3 linked regions of the Homo sapiens genome follow. The protein of the gene in region 1 purifies or fractionates together with the protein of each later gene. This does not show direct contact. Each region holds a gene or a part of one and is shown in the gene's direction. Other genes may lie near its edges.

Region 1 (7,051 bases):
ATAGATGCTGCTGGAAGGAACAAGACAAAGATGTTTACAACATTCCTAATCACCATTTCCTGCATCTAACTGCATGTTTTCCGGGTTGCTAGGCTGAAGAAGTTCTGCAGAAATATTTAAAGTCCAAGGAGTCTGTGAGTCATGCAATATTACAGACTGACCAGGCTCTCACAGAGACGGAAAAAAAGAAGAAAGGTGAGAAGAAAGTGGAAATTATGCAAGATAGAAAGAAATCTATAAATTTTAAATAAATTTGGCCTGGCCCTCATGGGATGTTAAACTAGAGCAAGAATGGCAAAGATGCTTCTTAGCTCCTCAAGCATATCTGACTGGCATGATCCTGCATTGTGGTTACCTGGAAGGGAAAAACAACCCCTGGGAATTTTATCCAGGAAGTTGGAACAATCACAAACAAAAGTGGGAGGCAGAAGGAAGAGGCACATTAATCCTAGAGAAGATTATCTTTTTCTCCTCAGAGGCACAAGTGAAAGCAGAAGCTGAAAAGGCTGAAGCGCAAAGGTTGGCGGCGATTCAAAGGCAGAACGAGCAAATGATGCAGGAGAGGGAGAGACTCCATCAGGAACAAGTGAGACAAATGGAGATAGCCAAACAAAATTGGCTGGCAGAGCAACAGAAAATGCAGGAACAACAGATGCAGGTATTCATCAATTGTTTCATCTCTCCCCTGCCTGTAACGATGAGAGTATGTAGCAGTGGCAAAGAGGGAGAGGCAGCAAGATCTTGTGGCTCTCAGCAGGGAGTCTGGAGCCAGAAAGTCTGGGTATGAATCCAAGCTCCACCTCTTAGTAAGTATATGGTTTAGGCAAGTTATCTATCACCTCTGTGCCTAATTTTCCTCTTGTGTAAAATGGACACAGTGATGATATCTATGTTATAGGGTTATTTTGATAATTAAATGAGTTAATATTTGTGTTTAAATGGTGCCCGATACAGAGTAAGCACTATATGTTGTTAAATAAAAACCAAGGCATTTCTGGGCTGCAGTAACTGGTCTTTCCTGTTGACTTGTTAATTGTCCTGGATGATCTTTTGCTTTGGTCATAGATACTTTGTTAATCTGATTTCATGTTACTGTGTCTATGCCCCTGTTCTTGCCTTGATCATCTCTGTTCTGAAGGCCTTTAATTTGCCAGTTTGTTTCATCCGGTCCTTTACTTTTATTTACCAATCACTGTCAGTAGTTACCAAGCACTCTCCAGTAGTTATTATTTATCAGTCACTGTCATAGCACTTTACATGCATTATCTCATCTAATCCATTCACTGTAAAGCAGAACTACTGTGTCCTCATTTTTCAGATGAGATAAGTGGGGTTTCAAAGAGATAATCAATGCAAATATCACACAAGCCTAGCACATTAACAAAACTGCCTTCCAAATGAGTGGAATCTGCAGTGTTTTTGCTTCTTCAGACCTGGTGTAAAATTCCTATGTCAGCACCCTAATGAGACAAATGACATCCTAATTCTTCCCCTTGGCTTGCCAGTTTGTAGGTACTAGTTTTTCAGAAGTTACTCTAAAATATTTCTGATTGCAGCTCCTTCCTAAAGAGCAGTATGAGCAGCATGTGGTTATTTATGTATTCACTCTTTTCTCCTACTTCTGTGGTGACCTGGAACAAATTCTCTTATGTATGTAAAGATTGGACAGCCCACCTGATTCCGATGTCACTTAGATACACTGTTTTTGTATCAGCCTCTTCTCTTAGAAATATATCTGAGAGTCTCCTGTGTGTGTATGAGAATTGAAGTCAAGATGTGACTAAGATTGCCCAAGGAGATCGTGTGGTTTAAGGGGGAAGGGAGCTTTGGTTTGGAATCCTAGGGACACCAATATTCCAGGGATGAGAAATGACCATTTCTGGAGCTAGAGAAAGACAAGGAGGGTGAATAATTACAGAAATAGGTTAGATGCACGTGAATGGAAGAGAGATATTCAGGAACTGTTTACTGCTACTGTAGATGAAAAGAAGTAAGGACAAGTGAGTGATTTAGGCAATCAGTAAGAAGCTTGATCTTACTTTCTATTTATCACTCTTTAGGAACAGGCTGCACAGCTCAGCACAACATTCCAAGCTCAAAATAGAAGCCTTCTCAGTGAGCTCCAGCACGCCCAGAGGACTGTTAATAACGATGATCCATGTGTTTTACTCTAAAGTGCTAAATATGGGAGTTTCCTTTTTTTACTCTTTGTCACTGATGACACAACAGAAAAGAAACTGTAGACCTTGGGACAATCAACATTTAAATAAACTTTATAATTATTTTTTCAAACTTTCATATAGAGTTATAAGATTATGATGCTGGTATCTGGTAAAATGTACATCCCAGTAGTCCAATAGTTTAAATGTTTATTGCTTCCTTTAAGAGATTATAAATTGTATAAGGGACATTGTATCACTGCCTTCATTTATGCGTGATATTGGGATGGTTTCATCAGGAGATGCTTTCCTTGCATCTCAATGTCATCTGTCTAATTTCTCATAAGGGGATTATGTTACCTAGAGCAGGGCTTCCCAACCCTCAGGCCATAGACTAGCTCTGATCTGTGGCCTCTTAGGAACCCGGCCACACAGCAGGAGGTGAGCAGCAGGTAAGTGAGCATTACAGCCTGAGCTCCACCTCCTGTCAGATCAGCAGTGACATTAGATTCTCACAGGAGTGGGAACCCTATTGTGAACTGTGCATGCAAAAGATCTAGGTTGTGTGATCCTTGTGGAACAATATAAACCAGAAACCAATAACGCCACCCCACCTCCAACCCCCGCCAACCCTCTGTGGAAAAATTACCTTCCACGAAACTGGTCCCTGATGCCAAATAGGTTGGGGGACCGCTGACCTAGAGGGAGTTATGCACATGGGCTTATAAGGTTAGCCAAGAGAAAGGACAAGAAGACCCAAAGTCGGCAAGCAAATTTATTAACCTGCTGGGCTGCTCTACAGAAATCTGAGGAGGCAGACACCGGGCTTACAGGCTAAGGGGTATAAGTAGGTCTGCAGGGGTTTTGTGTGTGTGTGCGGGGGTGTCGGGGGGGCAAGGCCATTTGTGGAGACTTTTCCTCCCAGTATGGCCACATCCTGCAGTTTGTCAGTTTTTGCCCCCGCCTGGCTCAGGGTACCAGGATGTGGTTTAGCTTAGGGGTGGTTATAGTGGCACCTAAGTTCTGGGAACTTGCGGTGGGGGCGACCTTTTGGACGAAAAATAAGCTGCAGGGCAGCTAGGGGAGGGGGCTTGTTATATTCCTCTGGGGGCAGGGTGTCCCTAACTGGGCTCAGTCGGAAGGAACTTGACCAAAGTCTGGGCTCAGTTGGGCATCACTCAGGCTAATGGTCGTGTGCTGGATGCCATCAGAGGGAAGTACCAATGGTAAAGTGGAAACAATGTGCAGCTTTCAACTGGGTGGAGGCTGCTATTCTGTGGACAGTGAGATGTTTCCTTGGCACTGTCAATAGACAATCTGCGTAGAGAAATTCCAAGCTGAAAGCCAATAATGTTATAATAAAATAGAGATTCTTCAGAAGATGAAAGGAATTACCAGCATGGAAATTGTGTCATAGGCTTAAGGGCTAAAGAAGAAGCCTTTTCTTTTCTGTTCACCCTCACCAAGAGCACAACTTAAATAGGGCATTTTATAACCTGAACACAATTTATATTGGACTTAATTATTATGTGTAATATGTTTATAATCCTTTAGATCTTATAAATATGTGGTATAAGGAATGCCATATAATGTGCCAAAAATCTGAGTGCATTTAATTTAATGCTTGCTTATAGTGCTAAAGTTAAATGATCTTAATTCTTTGCAATTATATATGAAAAATGACTGATTTTTCTTAAAATATGTAACTTATATAAATATATCTGTTTGTACAGATTTTAACCATAAAAACATTTTTGGAAAACCATAAATCAGTTCCTTTGTTTGTATTTTTCTCAAAGTTAAAAGTCTATAGAGAAAGACTGAATTTCCCTAAGGAGATTAAGAATTGCTTTAAGACTAGAATTAAAACACACTTTATTACATCTTTTTATGTACTTTTTGTTACTTTGTTTTGTATATCTCCAGTAAAATTTTTTTTGTTTAAATTATAGAAACATTACACAAAGCTCTGTTTTTCTCCCTTATAAGTACTTACTCATATAAGGAATTTTCCACTTAGGTAATATGATAGGAGCTTGAATTTTTTTAGTCACCCAAAATATGATTTACTTATATACAGAAAAAAGCCGAAAAATTTTAGTGTCTGCTCTTTTTACTGTTCTTTGAAGAGCTTTAATATGAGGAATTTTTCATATCAGATAGGATGTGGTGCTACTCAGCAGTATTTCTAGATTTGAACTGAAGTTCAGAAGGTACCAGCATATTCAACTGAGCATTTGTCTAGCAATACCCTACAATTACCTTTTCAAGCTGTGCAATTTATAAAGAAAAAAATACATTTTATCATCCAAGGAAATGTTATCAGTAAAAAGAATAGCTCTATCTCCAAATTAAATATTGATATCTTTATTACCCATCTTAAAGAAATTTTTTAAAATCCTGAGACTCAGAAAATTAAGTCATTTAAGGTTTCACACCTTGTTACTGTTAACCTAGACCATGTTACAAAGTAGTTGATTTCTAGTCTAATTTAACTTTTGCTATTATATCTCCCCCACCAAAAACCAGAGAGGCATGCTGCTTTCATTAGTGATCCACAGATATTCTTCCCCACCAGCTTCCCTGGATCCCACTCATCCCCAAATACTCTGATCTCACAGGTTAGAGATCTGTCACTGGGTGCAAAAGAACAAGAAAAGGCACTGTAAGGTAAACATTGATGATTTCTTGAAACTACCAGTAAGTAGCTTATATTTTCTGACTTTCTTTGTCTTACTGTTGTGAAATCAACTGATCTAGTTTTAAATGTAATGAAAAGCAAAGCAATAGATTCTCCCCTAGAGCCTGCAGATGGAATGCAGCCTTGTTAACATCTTGATTTAAGCTTCACAGACTTCTGATTTCCAAAACTGTAAGATAATAAGCTTCTGTTGTTTTAAGCCACAAAATTAGTAATAATTTGTTATAGCAGCAATAGGAAACAAGTACAAAATCTTTATTAGTTAATACTATGAATAGTTATTCATACCAGCTAAGAGATATTTGGAATTTATTATGGATCACTTTATTATGGTCACTGTAGTAATTCACCTGTTGCTCATAAAAACCTTATAAACATTTAGTATTGTTTTATGGCAATTGTTATTTTAAACAATATTATCAATGTATGTTAGTGTTATCATTATTAAAGTTATTATTGTTAAAGCATTGAAATTAAATAAATTAAGGTCAGTACCACAGAAGGCCTTTTGAATTTAGAACCCACATTAATAACCATCTTGTGGTACTTTCTTATCTTGCTTAGTGATACGGTTTGGCTGTGTCCACTCAAATCTCATCTTGAATTATGGCTCCCATAATGCCCACGTGTTGTGGGAGGGACCAGGTGGGAGGTAATCAAATCATGGGGGTGGGTTTTCATGTGCTTTTTTCATGATAGTGAATAAGTCGCCTGAGATCTGATGGCTTCATAAAGGGCAATTCCCCTGCACATGCTCTCTTGCCTGACACCATGTAAGATGTGCCTTTGTTCCTCTTTCATCTTCTGCTGTGGTTGTGAGGCCTCCCCACCCATGTGAAACTACAAGTCCATTACATCTCTTTTCCTTTATAAATTACCCAGTCTTGAGTATTTCTTCATAGCAGTATGAAAATGGACTAATATACTTAGGAAAACATAGAAATACTGAATAATGTGTTAAAATTTAGAAGGAATTACTAAAATAATTGAAATCAAAAGCATAGATTCAAAACAATGTATAAGAATTCAGCACAAAATAAGCAGGTAAAGAAATTTCTAAAATGAAGTAGAGAAAATGTGGTAATGACTCTAGTGTATAACGATCACCAACAGAATAGAAAGTCCAAAAAATAGACTTTATAGGAATAATACAGGGTAAAGATAGACTTCTTAGTAGGTTGGGACTACTGGATGGCCATATAGGAAAAGATCAAGTTGTAACCAGACCTCACACACAATACACTAAAATAAGAAAAAGGAACCACACCCAAATTGATAAAATATAAAATGTAAAACTATGAAAATGCATTTGAAGAAATCAAGGTTATGTTCTTCATAAACCTGTAGAGGAGAGGGCCTTTCTAAATGTGACTCAAAACTCTTGAAATCTCTCTTGACCCCATGTCTCAGTCAGTTTCAACACAATCTTTGTTCCCTTTCAAAGCAATATTTTAGTTAGTTACATCCCATTCTCTGTTTTTCAAAATTATTAAATGTGACACATACTGAAGAGTACAAAAAACATAAAATGTACAATATTCAATATAAATAAATTACAAGATGAACGCACAAGTAACAACCCAGGTACATACATTCAGCATTACTAAAATTCTATAGGTGTATATGACAACTTCTGACAACCCTGCTAGAGCCAACTAATATCACAACTTTCACAACTATTTTCTAGGATTTTATTATAAACATGTGAGCTCCTAAGTAATGTAATTTTGTTTGGCCTGTTTTCAAACTTTATTTAAATGGAATTACATTGTTTGTATTCTTTTATGCCTTGCTTCATTTGTTAATAAAATCTTTATAAGATTCATCTAGTTCATTGTGTGTAGTTGTAAGCTATATATATTCTACTGTTTAAAGATAACAATTCATTCTACTATTAATACATATCTGGATTTTCAGGTTTACCTTATGAAATGTTATTAAGGACATTCTTTTTTTTTTCTGTTTTTTTTTTTTTATGAGACAGAGTCTCACTCTATCACCCAGGCTGGAGTGAAGTGGCATGATCTCGGCTCAAGGCAACTTCTGCCTCCCAGGTTCAAGCAATTCTCATGCCTCAGCCTCCCAACTAGCTGGGACTACAGGCACACACCACTATGCCTGGCTAATTTTTGCATTTTTAGTAGAGATAGCGTCTCACCATGTTGTACAGGCAGGTCTTGAACTCCTGGCC
Region 2 (3,870 bases), on another chromosome or scaffold:
AAGAGACACACAGGGCAGAGTCTGGGAGGATTTCAGGTGTGAATCTTCATTGTCCTCAGGAGGCTGTGTTCTCCTGTGTGAATGTGGGACAAAACACATGCGGTGTTGCCAACCAGGGAAGCTCACCCAGTTAAGGAAAAATTCCTGTGAATCACATTAAACCAGAAATGAAGCCTTTATTCAGGATTGTTGTTACAGGGGAGGGAGACTGAGCCCAGCTCCAAATATAGTAAAGACAGAGGGGGAGTCACAGCCAACACCAGGGTGGGGGCGGGAGATGGAACAGGACTGACAGGAGACGCCAGAGTGGGGGGTTCCTGCTAAACTGGCCTAACAGGATTCTCGCCAAAGGCAGGTCAGACCCTCAACCACCAGTGGTGGGGGTGAGGAGCATGATCAGATAACAAACGGTGCTCAGACAGCAAGCGGGGAGGACCCTCCCTAAACTGATTTGGGGAGATTCTTGCTGAGCCAAGGTGGTGCAAGTCCAGAAAGCAGTGGGTGAGTGTGGAAGGCCAAGGTCGGCGCCTAGTGGAGAAGAAGCTCTGAAGAGCCCAGCTGGAGTTGGTCAAGGAGAAAGTCCTTCTTTCTCAACCCATGCCTTAGTGTCCAGAGTATCTGCTGGGGCTGGATCACAAGCTGCCCTCATGGCTAGAGTCTCCAGCCCTTCCCTGAGATCTCACACCTTTAGTCCCCAAGTCCTCTGGAAGTCAGGAAAGACACCAAATAGCCCCAAACCCTATCATCCATCACATCGCTATACTGTCCCGTGGCCAAATCACCAGGCAAAGAAAGATGTTCCTACCAGGCAGGACATTCCAGGGGCCTGGAGATCACTTCCCAGGAGCTGAGGACAAAGGGAAGGCCTCTCTTTGGGTAAAGTTCATGCTTCACTTTCCTGCCATCCTGGTAATAAGGTCTCTTTGTCTCACTCTCACTGCTCTTTGTTCATCTGCAGAGTTTTCCCTCTCCAAACACTTTGGCAGTCACGGTGTTGACCTGCCCTTGAGTGAGGAGGCATCTTTATCAAACACCTACCATGAAAGAGCATCTGAGGTGCCTTTAAGATATTTATTTCCATATGGAATAAGTACTGAGGAATATCTATGATGAACAAAATGTGTTTGAGTTTGAAAGATAATTAATTCCATTTGTAAAATTTGTTTCTATTTGATTGATAGTGAAAGCTCTGCAATTTACACAGGATAGAGATCGCATGGAGCTCATTTCACAGATAGGGAAACTGCATTTCTTAATCCTTTAACCTTTCCTTGTGCAGGGATGAGGCAGATGAGCTCCGTAAAGCTCTGAACAAGCTTGCAAGTCACATGGTCATGAAGGACAAAAACCGCCACGATAAAGACCAGCAGCACAGGCAGTGGTTTTTGAAAGAGTTTCCTCGGTTGAAAAGGGAGCTTGAGGATCACATAAGGAAGCTCCGTGCCCTTGCAGAGGAGGTTGAGCAGGTCCACAGAGGCACCACCATTGCCAATGTGGTGTCCAACTCTGTTGGCACTACCTCTGGCATCCTGACCCTCCTCGGCCTGGGTCTGGCACCCTTCACAGAAGGAATCAGTTTTGTGCTCTTGGACACTGGCATGGGTCTGGGAGCAGCAGCTGCTGTGGCTGGGATTACCTGCAGTGTGGTAGAACTAGTAAACAAATTGCGGGCACGAGCCCAAGCCCGCAACTTGGACCAAAGCGGCACCAATGTAGCAAAGGTGATGAAGGAGTTTGTGGGTGGGAACACACCCAATGTTCTTACCTTAGTTGACAATTGGTACCAAGTCACACAAGGGATTGGGAGGAACATCCGTGCCATCAGACGAGCCAGAGCCAACCCTCAGTTAGGAGCGTATGCCCCACCCCCGCATGTCATTGGGCGAATCTCAGCTGAAGGCGGTGAACAGGTTGAGAGGGTTGTTGAAGGCCCCGCCCAGGCAATGAGCAGAGGAACCATGATCGTGGGTGCAGCCACTGGAGGCATCTTGCTTCTGCTGGATGTGGTCAGCCTTGCATATGAGTCAAAGCACTTGCTTGAGGGGGCAAAGTCAGAGTCAGCTGAGGAGCTGAAGAAGCGGGCTCAGGAGCTGGAGGGGAAGCTCAACTTTCTCACCAAGATCCATGAGATGCTGCAGCCAGGCCAAGACCAATGACCCCAGAGCAGTGCAGCCACCAGGGCAGAAATGCCGGGCACAGGCCAGGACAAAATGCAGACTTTTTTTTTTTTTTTTTTTTTTTTTTGAGATGGAGTCTCGCTCTATCGCCCAGGATGGAGTGCAGTGGCTCAATCTCGGCTCACTGCAAACTCCGCCTCCCGGGTTCACACCATTCTCCGGCCTCAGTCTCCCGAGTAGCTGGGACTACAGGCACCTGCCACCACGCCCGGCTAATTTTTTTGTATTTTCACTGGAGACGGGGTTTCACTGTGTTAGCCACGATGGTCTCCATCTCCTGACCTCGTGATCTGCCCACCTCGGCCTCCCAAAGTGCTGGGATTACAGGCGTGAGCCACCGCGCCTGGCCAAAATGCAGACATTTTATTAGGGGGATAAGGAGGGCAAGGTAAAGCTTATGGAACTGAGTGTTAGTGACTTTGGCATTTGTGTAGCTGAGCACAGCAAGGGAGGGGTTAATGCAGATGGCAAGTGCACCAAGGAGAAGGCAGGAACACTGGAGCCTGCAATAAGGGAGGAGAGAGGACTGGAGAGTGTGGGGAATGGGAAGAAGTAGTTTACTTTGGACTAAAGAATATATTGGGCGAAGAATAGAGGGGGAGCTTGCAGGAACCAGCAATGAGAAGGCCAGGAAAAGAAAGAGCTGAAAATGGAGAAAACCAGAGTTAGAACTGTTGGATACAGGAGAAGAAACAGCAGCTCCACTACCGACCCCCCCCCAGGTTTGATGTCCTTCCAAGAATAAAGTCTTTCCCTGGTGATGGTCTCTCGCTCTGTCTTTCCAGCATCCACTCTCCCTTGTCCTTCTGGGGGTGTATCACAGTCAGCCAGTGGCTTCTTCATGATGGTGGTTGGGGTGGTTGTCATGTGACGGGTCCCCTCCAGGTTACTAAAGGGTGCATGTCCCCTGCTTGAACCCTGAGAGGCAGGTGGTAGGCCATGGCCACAATCCCCAGCTGAGGAGCAGGTGTCCCTGAGAACCCAAACTTCCCAGAGAGTATCTGAGAACCAACCAATGAAAACAGTCCCATCGCTCTTAGCCGGTAAGTAAACAGTCAGAAGATTAGCATGAAAGCAGTTTAGCATTGGGAGGAAGCACAGATCTCTAGAGCTGTCCTGTCGCTGCCCAGGATTGACCTGTGTGTAAGTCCCAATAAACTCACCTACTCACCAAGCTGGACTTGTTCGAGTCATTCTTTGGTCTCTCAGCTCCTTCTAAGCTTTGGGGGCCATCAGTCTCAAGTTTTTCTCGTAATGGTGGTGATGGTGGTTGTGATGGCAGCAGAGTGGTGGGGGCCTTGGCAAGTGGTCGGTGCTCTTCCAGACCAGGGGACACCGATGGACCGATGAAGTTCCAGGGGAACTTGAAGTGCTGTGTTGGAAAGAGGTTAATTTGGGAAGAAAGGAAAAATGAAAGGAGATGCCAGGAACAGGTCAAGGAAGCTTGAGGTGTGTCCAGGAGTTCAACCCTGCTTGTGGTCATGAGACTTCACCCCTCTGAGCCTCAGTTTCCTCATCAGCTGTAGAAGGGGGCTGGAAAAGGTGATATCTCAGGTCCACCTTGCTCTCCCCATCTTGTGTTCTGGAGACTTGAGTCAATCAGCACTGACTGATGGCTGTGACTTTGTGGTGCCGATGGAGGCTCCCCTGGGCTCTGGGTGCCTGACTTAACCTTCCTCATGATCCTTCTTCC
Region 3 (3,818 bases), about 88 Mb from region 1:
CCAGTCGGGAGCCCGCTGCCAGGGTCTCCTGCACAGCCAGGCACCGAGAGACCCGGCCTGCTCAGCATCTCTGCCTATGGGCACCCTTGGAGCAGAGCAGGGCTCAGGGCTTGGTCAGCCCTGGTGGCCACGGGACGAGAAGCCAGGTTGGCCACGATGCCACGGCACCCCCATCGCGGGGGCACCATGGAGGCAGAAGCCCACGGCCGTGGGGCTCAAAGCCACCTCGTGCCTGAGGCTCCTCCCGGGAGGGTGGGAGGGCAGCCCTTCCCCTGGGACCCTGGAGCCTGGGGAGACGCTTCTCATGAGGGGGGCTTGTCCCCTCTGCTGAGGCGGGAAGGTGGGTCCAGGGAGCGGGGACTCACCTGGGGTGCTAGGGAGGCCCCCGCACCTGTGAGTGCCCCGGAGGAATGTGGCAGGACCGAGGGCCAGGCTGATGCACCGCAGGGAGAGGTTGGGGGAGACCCTGCAGCCCCGGGGCCTCTGCTGCTCCGAGGACGCCGCACTGGGCTGAGGCTGAGGCAGCTCCTCGCTCTGCTGTCCCGGACGCTGCACTGGGCTGAGGTTGAGGCAGCTCCTGGGCTCCAGGGTGACTCTCCGCTTTCTCCCCCACAGCTCCGGCCCTGCAGCCTGGCGAAGCCGTAAGTAACCCACATCATCCGGGCTGAGCGTCCCTGGCCGCGTGTGCCTGTGCCAGGCCATCCCGAGTCCTCACTCTGCCTTTCTCTCCTTTTCAAGGCTGCAATGATCCCCCCGCCACAGTCCTCAGGTAACAGCAGCTGTCGCATCCCCCTGTGGGGTTTCCCATCTCTGGGCCAGTCCCAGGGTGCTCTGTGGGTTTGTCCCCAAACGGGTTTGCCTGGCTCTGGATCTCGGCCACCCCTGCCCGGGTCCCCAGGAGACCCACCCACAAGGCAGGGCCAGGGCCGGATTTGGCTGGTGCCCCCTGCTCTGGATCTCAGCTGGATTTGGCCGGCGCCCCCTGCCCGCCCCCCTTTAATCCCCGTGACTTCCATGCTCTTTCCTGTTCCCGAGACGTGGGGTCTGCAGGAAAGGAGGACCCACCACGACAGGGCAGACCCCCAATACCTGCTCCTCCTTGAAGTCCAGCTCCACCCGAGGACAGACGCAGCCGGCCTCCGCCAGGCCCTCCTGAGCAGCCATCGCTTCAGTGGTGCTGGGTCAGGCGGACCCAAGAGTCAGCCCGGTTAGGACCCATTTTATGTGCGGGGCCACAGACACAGGCTGAGTGACCGGCGCACAGCCACACAGCTCCAAGGCCATGAGCAGGGCTCACCCGGCCTCCGTCCCCCTGTGCAGAAGTCTGTCATGGGGGCAGGTGACCGTGCCTTTAGGGGACAGACCGTTCTCCATCAAGGCTGGACGTGCCCCGTCCCTAAAGCAGCCCTGTCTGCAAGTGCCCAGCAGACCCCACGGTGCCCGAGTGCCCCGGGGCTGCCAGCTTCAACAGCAGACCTTTAATCTGACTATCCTAGAGTTCAGAAGTCCAAAACCAAGGGGCAAACAAGGCCACACGCTTCCCGAGGCTCCGGGGAGGACGCTGTCTGCCTTCCCAGCCCCTGCCGGCTCAGGCATCTGTGGCTGCGTTGCCCGTCTCTGTCCCCTGGTCCCACGGCGTCTCCCCCACCTCTGCGTCTTCTCTCTCTGCCTCTCTCTCAGGTGGGCCCTGGCCGTTGTTTCAGGGCCTGCCCGGGGAACCCTGGGCGATCACACCTGAGACCCTGACGTAACCCCCTGCAAAGCCCCTTCTTCTAAATAAGGTCACATTCGAGGTCTTGGGACTACGGCCTGCTTGTCGCCCCCTGAGGTGCATGATACTCTGGGACCCACATCTCTGTCTTCGGGGATCGCCTGGCCCTTGTCCAGGCCCCGGGGCCCAGGGTGTAAATGAGAGGACACAGCCGGGCAGGAGGAAGCCGTCCCTTTCCCGAGCTGGAGCTCTGAGGGCGCCTTAGGGGCAGGGGGCATCTGGGTTCCCACCTGGTCAGAGTAAACAGCCCCGGGCGCCTGTGCCATATGCCCACTCCCGAGAGCCTCCGGTGAGGGCTGAGGCCTGCACTGTCCCTGCTGTCCAGGTCCCACTCTGACCTCGCCTGTCTCTGACCCGTTTCAGTACGGAAGCCGCGCTACGTCAGGCGGGAGCGGCCCCTGGACAGGGCCACGGATCCCGCTGCCTTCCCGGGGGAGGCCCGTATCAGCAATGTCTGACCTGGAGGCCGAGACCACGCCACGCACTTGGCGGCAGGGACCCGGAGGCCGACCCCTTGGCGGGAACCAGCACAAAGTGTTGGCATCGCCCGGCGCCCGGGACAGTCCTGGGCACAGCCTCGGCTCTGAGTCCCTCCGCCTCCCAGCGACGGACGCCAAAGGGTCCCGGGCCGCCTGAGGCTCCTCCCCACCACAGCCATCTCGTTTATCGGACCAGGAGCAGGCATCCATGAGACCTCAGAGCTTCAGATCGAGGCCTTGGGGGGTCCGGGCCCCCCCAGGAAACACGGTGAGGCCCCAGCGCCTGCAGCCAAAGCTGGCACGATCTATGGGGCAGGTGCCGCTCTGCCTAGAAAAGCCAGGGGCTCTGCTGCCGTGCCCTCCAGAGCCCACAGCGGGCAGGACTCCTCCAGCACCACCACACCCAGTGGCCCGAGACCCCTCTGAGAACAGTGAGGCTGGTCCTCGTGCCGTTCCAGCCGGTGCCCGGCCAGTGGGGAGGACACAGCCTAGGAACCAGCTGCCTGAGACCAGGGTGCCTCTGGGCTGTCCTCCCGCGTGGCGGAGACCCCAAGCACGCAGCCACCCATTTCCGGAGCTGCAGGATAGAGCTTCCTCTTGATCTCTGTTTTTAAGCAGAAATTCATTGTGCAGAAAAGTCCTCCAGAGCTCTGTGGCCCCGCTCGGATCCGCTGGACCCCCATGCCTGGCTGATCCCTGCCCACGTGGGGCAGGCCCACATCTAACCCCCACAAGTCACTGCCTCACTGCACCTGCCAAGGCTGCCCTGGCGCTGAGTCCTGGGGTCCCTCCCGGAGTTCCTGGGAGAAAGGCGCCGTCGTGGCCGCCTCCCGCACGCCAGGCCCGGGCTCCACCGTGGGTCTCAGACGCCCTGCGGCACCGGCACCGTCTGCTTTAGCATGGGACCCCCCTCTGAGGGGTGGCCTGGCCTTCGGGGTCCCCACGCTCCTTTGCGAAGTCCACTGTGGGTGCCATCATGGTCTCCGGGACCTGGGCCAGCGGGAACGTGGGGGCACTGGGTGTGCTGATATAAAGTCGGCATTACTCAAGCTGCGTTCCGAGCTGCTCTCTCCCGTAGGATGCTCTGTTCTCTAAGTGCAGGTCGGGGAGCAAAGCCCCCGCCAGGCTGGCCCCACGCACTCCGCCACCGTGTGCTGGGGGCAAGGAGGTGGGACGGGGGTGGAGGAGAGTCCAGGTTGGGGCTGCCTGGTTGGGACCCCCCGCCCCGCGCCGCACATTTTCTGCCACAGGCCCATTCCCCAGATGCAACCTGTGCAGGTGGGACCTGTGGTCCCCGAACCCCCAGCTCGGAGTGAGGTGGGACAGAGTGTGGGTGTGCGTTTCCATCGGCCGGCCGGGCTGCGTGGGGGCTGCAGACACGGGCCCCGGGAGGGCTGCCATGGCCATCTGGGGGGGCAGCAGTGTGGGGGTGTTTGCTGACAGTGATGGGCCTGGCCAGAGAGGGCTGAGCTGGGGCAGGACAGGCCTTGAGGGCAGAGGGCCCGGGCACCAGGATGCCAGAGCGCGGGCCCTGCTCTCGTAACCGTGCCCTCCACCCAGGCAGAAAC

What was found. Proteins that work in one complex are often made in the same cells at the same time.
Region 2: the proteins of GBP5 (region 1) and APOL2 purify together in Homo sapiens (affinity purification with mass spectrometry; 2 studies listed by BioGRID and IntAct, with this or other methods). This does not show direct contact.
Region 3: the proteins of GBP5 (region 1) and C1orf159 purify together in Homo sapiens (affinity purification with mass spectrometry; 2 studies listed by BioGRID and IntAct, with this or other methods). This does not show direct contact.

The regions. Positions count from the first base shown.
Region 1 is NC_000001.11:89,255,827-89,262,877, reverse strand, and holds the end of GBP5 (guanylate-binding protein 5), read left to right. Parts: intron 1-92; coding exon 93-195; intron 196-476; coding exon 477-658; intron 659-2,060; coding exon 2,061-2,174; 3' UTR 2,175-6,689; downstream 6,690-7,051.
Region 2 is NC_000022.11:36,225,690-36,229,559, reverse strand, and holds the end of APOL2 (apolipoprotein L2), read left to right. Parts: intron 1-1,279; coding exon 1,280-2,156; 3' UTR 2,157-3,351; downstream 3,352-3,870.
Region 3 is NC_000001.11:1,081,304-1,085,121, reverse strand, and holds the end of C1orf159 (uncharacterized protein C1orf159 isoform 2 precursor), read left to right. Parts: intron 1-615; coding exon 616-641; intron 642-738; coding exon 739-769; coding exon of another isoform or gene 770-1,207; intron 1,208-2,134; coding exon 2,135-2,229; 3' UTR 2,230-3,299; downstream 3,300-3,818.